Linked DNA regions of Homo sapiens: region 2 is linked to region 1. Evidence: fine-mapped expression QTL. Tissue or cell type: blood mononuclear cells. Region 1 holds a variant in brackets; the other region holds the start of a gene. All regions are shown on one strand. Distances are between the middles of the regions.

Evidence for each region. PIP is the estimated chance that this variant, and not a neighbour inherited with it, causes the effect.
Region 2: DCAF4L1 starts here. The variant in region 1 is fine-mapped to the expression of DCAF4L1 in blood mononuclear cells (TOPMed, PIP 0.98).

What each region holds. Positions count from the first base shown.
Region 1 is chr4:41,891,798-41,894,483 of GRCh38, reverse strand. No RefSeq gene overlaps it. Among named protein-coding and RNA genes, the nearest start is that of LINC00682, 11 kb to the right of the region's middle. The variant A/T (reference allele first, on the strand shown) is at 1,555.
Region 2 is chr4:41,980,164-41,982,849 of GRCh38, reverse strand. It overlaps DCAF4L1 (DDB1 and CUL4 associated factor 4 like 1), which reads right to left and starts at 1,094. Exons shown (of 1, transcript NM_001029955.4): 1 at 1-1,094. The coding sequence starts at 1,057. RefSeq lists enhancers at 1-604, 164-1,363.

The sequences.
Region 1 (2,686 bases):
TTGATGAACAAGCATGTGAATTAGAAATGAACTTAAGACTTTTGCTGTCTTTATTGTATAACACAGCAAAACAAGTCACCTCTGAGAGGGTGACTGCTCTTCCTATGCTCTCTCTCACTTGCCCCTCCAAGCAGCTGAACACAACTTTAGGTATGACTTAGCATTATCCAGTCCTATACCTTGACTGGCACTGTGCCCACTGCCTGGAGGGCCTTCTGCCCCTTAGCCAGCTGCATGACCCGCATGGCTTGACGAATGCCACTTCCTTCAGGAAGCCTAGAAATTAATTTGCAAAGTAGATTCATTTTGGCCCAGTTCCCTGATGGGCACTACCCTCTTGGCTCTCCAGGCTTCCATGGCACTCTGCTGTTACTTTCCACAGCACTTATCTGCCTTGCAGTGCTGTGGTTTCTATATACACCCAATCTCAGTGGAAATGGCAGTAGTTCCTTTGAAGAGAAATGAGTGCAGGAGTCAAGGCAGGGGTGGAACTTGGAAGCAGGAAACTGTGTTTGCTTCACACTTGACATGAAGATTAACACACTGTGAGATGGGGGTTTTGTGGGAGCTTCATGTGCTCCTCTTCCCCTAGCAGTCACCATCTAGTTTGCTCCCATTTTCCTATATGGTGATCCAGAGCACAACCTTTGCAGCCAACCCTCTGCCCCTTCCTAGTTGGGTGGCCTTTCCAGTTGTGTGGTGTTCAGCAAATGACTGTACATAACATATGCCACAGAGTTATTGTAAAGATGGACTGTGTTAATACTTGTAAGGTGCTAACAATGGGCCCTGGTACTTCTCAAGCCCCATCTTGGCTCAATTTTTTTAGAGACAGGACCTCACTCTTAACCCAGGCTGGAGAGCAGTGGCATGATCATGGCTCAATGTAGCCTCGAACTCCTGGGCTCAAGGTTCAACCTCCCAAGTAGCTGGGACTACTGGTGTGTGCCTTCATGCCTGGATCATTATTTTTTTAAAAACGTTTTTATAGAGATGAGGTCTTGCTATGTTTCCCAGGCTGGTCTCAAACTCCTGACCTCAAGTGATCCTCCCAAGTTGGCCTCCCAAAGTGCTGGGATTATAGGTGTGAGCCACCATCTCTGGCCCGCATCTTTGTTCTTATTGTCACAATCTTTTAGCAGGCAGAGTCCTTCTTGGTTCTCTTTTGCATCTGCCTCTTTCCAGCCCCTCTCCCAGGGCCTTGCTTATAGGAAAGACTCATCAAGTCTGTTGAAGTGAGACTTGGTGTCTGGAGGGAGGGAGGTGGGAGGGGAATTGGGAGAGGAAGAGCAGTGAACCATGGTGAAATACTGTCACGGCAATAAGAATCTTGAGATAGCCCAAGTTACAGGGCTATCCCAGGTTCAGGGGCAAAAGTTGGGGATAGAGCCCAGAATGATCATTTGTAGTAGTGTCAAATACATGATCTTAGAAGGAAAAGAAAAGTGTCTACCTTAGTCCATAGAACTTACTTGTTCATTTTGATGTTACATACAGCATGCTTAACTTTGCTGTGAGGAAACCTATACTCTTTCATTTATTGCTTTCTAAAAA[A/T]GGCTGTTGTTCACCACCTCCATCTTTCATATACTCAGGGATCACAAGGGATCTTGTTCACAGGGCAGATTGTAATTCAGTAGGTCAGGGCAGGGCCTTAGATTCTGTATTTCAAATAAACTTTCAGGTGATACTGATGCTACTGGTCCACAGACCACACTTTGAGAAGCTAGGATATACAAAATGGGTGAAGAGGGGAGAAAAAAAAGCACATACCATTTTCCCTATCATTGCAAAATAAGCAGATATCAAGGTCAATGATAGTCCATTCTAACTTGAGTTGTTTCAAGATATGTATGGCTGTGGTAGGGGGTTTTGTCACAATGCATTTCCTTTGCTCTCCCAGCTAGGTGACACTGAAGTGGTCATTTATAACTACGTTACTATGGAGACAGGAAAGATATATATTTATCCAAACCTGGGGATGAATTAATCTTAAAAAGATGAGTACAAGTACTTCAACAGATGAGGACGATCTGAAGGTTAGGTAGGTATTTCAAGTGGATTAAAAAGGGCTAAGTTATATTTCTTTTTAAAATGTATTTTTCTTTTCATTTTTAGTTGATATGTAATAGTTGTACTTTTTAAAAATTTTCTTTAAGAGTCAATCACAGGCTGGGCACAGTGACTTACACCTGTAATCCCAGCACTTTGGGAGGCCGAGGCAGGCAAATCGCTTGAGCCCAGGAGATTGAGACCAGCCTGGGCAACATGGTGAAAACCCATCTCTATAAAAAAGACAAAAATCAGCCGGGCATGGTGCTGCATGCCTGTAGTCCCAGCTACTTGGGAGGCTGAGGTGGAAGGATTGCTTGAGCCCAGGAGGTCAAGGCTGCAGTGAGCTGTGGGCATGCCACTACACTCCAGCCTGGGTGACACAGCGACATAGACCATTGCTGCAGAATCATCTGGTATATTTTTTCAGATGCGGGCTTCTGGGCCCCACTCTAGATATAATAAAATGATCTCTGAGGGAAATCTGAGAATCTGAATCTTTTATAAACACCTATCCAAGCAATTCTTACACCATTAAAATTCAAAAAGCACACGCTTAGAGCCTTTGAGGTCTCTGCTGAGACTTAAATATCATTTGATGAGCTTGCAATACAGTTAATGGATAATAGCGTGAGTG
Region 2 (2,686 bases), 88 kb before region 1:
GGATGGTTCTGAGCAGGTGGGCATCATGGAGGCTCCAGATTCTCGTGTAGCAGTCCTGGCCCACTGCCACCACGATTCCCTCTTCCTCGTGCACATGCAGGGGCAGATAGGCGGACTCATTCACGTGACCTTCGTACTGCCTTACACATTTAGTGGCCCTCAGATCCCACAGCTTGATCTTTCCAGTCATGTCTGATGCCATCAGGCATTGCTCTTCTTGGAGGATTTGCACAGAGGTCACTGCTGAGTCATGGAACAGGCGAGTGGCCCTCCACCCCTTGCCTCGATTTCTACAACGCAGATCAATGGCAAAGATCTCCCCGGAGCGACAGCCATTAAACAGCAAAGGAGCCGTACTAGCAAACTGCTGGGCCAAGACATCACTGCTGGTATCAAATGACTGCTGGTGTCCCGTCGCCACGCTGGTCAACAGGACCTGCTGAGACAAGCCTGCACTAAAGCAGTGATATGCCCGGGTGTTGAGGGACCACGCACAGGACCAGGCCTCTGGGATCTGGAAACTGCAGAGCATGCCAGGCTGGTTAACTCTTGTGTGAACACTTAAGAACCGCGACGCTGGGAGCAGCACTGCACAGCTTGGAGCATCTGTGATTCCCTCGAAGCACAGCAGAACGTGAGAGTCCAACTGGTTCAGCGAGGCCCAGCACAGGGACTTCACCTTCCGGTTGGGGACGTAGAGGTTTCTGAGCACGTACACGTGGAACGAAGGGATCTTCAGAGTTCGCAGGCTGATGATGCCGTACTTGGAGCCTTCGACTTCGACCTGGTTCACTACGAAGAGCTGGTCGCTGTTGGTACTCGCCAGAATGAAGTTAAATCGGTCGCTCGCCAAAGAGGAGGGATCCAAGCTCCGAATTTGGACCTTTTTCCGCTCCATGCAGCTCACACGCAGCTCGTTGGCTAAACGGGAGTAACTGGTGACGTTGAGGAAACCTAGCTGGCTTTTTCGGAGCATGGAAGATGCATTAAATCCCATTCTGGCTACCTTTTTCAGCTTGGCCTCTTCCTCGAGGAGTCGCAGCCTTTCAGCCTCCATTTCCTCCTGCGGAATGTTCCTCGTGACAGGAAATTCTGCAGGATGTTCTTCTCCGTGACAGGATGTTCTTTTCCGTGACAGGAAGTTCCGTCCGGGTGCAAGCGGAAGTGTTGCTACTTTTTATCCTCTCTATTCTAGGAGGAAGTCCATTGTTACAGATGTGTATTACAAATCTCTTTTCCTACTCTGTGGGTTGTCGTATTCTCTCAGTGGTGTCTTGATGAAAGGAAGTTCTTGATGTTAAATTTTTTCCTTTCTCTTTTTGAGACAGGGTCTTGCTCTTTCACCCAGGCTGGAGTCCAGTGGCACGACCACGGCTCACTGCAGCCTGGAACTCCTGGGCTCAAGTGATTCTCCTACCTCTGCCCTACTTAGCTGGGACTATGGGCTCACAACACCATGCCAGGCTACTTTTTTTGTAAAGATGGGGTCTCCCTGCTTTGCCGATGCTAGTCTGGAACTCTTGAGCTCAAGCAGCCTGTCCGCCTCAGCCTCCCAAAGTGCTGGGATTACAAGCATGAGCCCACGCGCCCTGCCTGTATTTCTTATTTTTTTATTTTTTATTTTAAGACGGAGTCTCGCTCTGTCGGCCAGGCTGGAGTACAGTGGCGCGATCTCGGTTCACTGCAAGCTCTGCCTCCCACGTTCACGCCATTCTCCTGCCTCAGCCTCCCAAGTGGCTGGGACTACAGGCGCCCGCCACCACGCCTGGCTAATTTTTTTTGTATTTTTAGTAGAGACAGGGTTTCACCGTGTTAGCCAGATGGTCTCGATCTGCTGACCTCATGATCGGCCCGCCTCAGCCTCCTAAAGTTCCGGGATTACAAGCGTGAGCCACTGCGCCCGGCCGCCTGTATTTTTAAAATACAGTTAGAGACCAGCCTGGGCGGCATGGTGAAACTTTGTCTCTAAAAAAATACAAAGATTAGGCCGGGCGCAGTGGCTCACGCCTGTAATCCCAGCACTTTGGGAGGCGCAGGCAGGCGGATCACGAGGTCAAGAGATTGAGACCATCCCGGCTAACACGGTGAAACCCCGTCTCTACCAACAATTAAAAAAATTAGCCGGGCATCGTGGCGGGCGCCTGTAGACCCAGCTACTCTGGAGGCTGAGGCAAGAGAATGGCGTGAACCCGGGAGGCGGAGCTTGCAGTGAGCCGAGATCGCGCCACTGCATTCTAGCCTGGGCAACAGAGCAAGACTCTGTCTCAAAAAATAAATAAATAAATAAAATACAAAAATTAGCGGGGTATGGTGCACACCTGTAGACCCAGCTACTCAGGAGACTGGGAGGGAAAATCACTTGAGCCTAGGAGTCTTGGAGGGAAAATCACCTGAGCCCTGAAAGTTGAGGCTGCAGTGATCACCCCACTGCACTCCAGCCCAGCTGGGAGACAGAATAAGACCCTGTCTCAAAAAGAAAGAAAAATAAGTAAATAAATTATGAATTTATCCAAATTGTCCATTTGTTTCATTAATGGTTAGTGTCTTTCATGTTCTGTTCAGGACATTAGTACCTATTACATGATACTAGTAAAGTTTTGGGGTGTCTTCAAGAGGAGGCTGATATCTCCAGTCCCCATCTGGATGTTTCCTTTGCCACAAAGCTTGCTGACTCCCCTTACGCTAT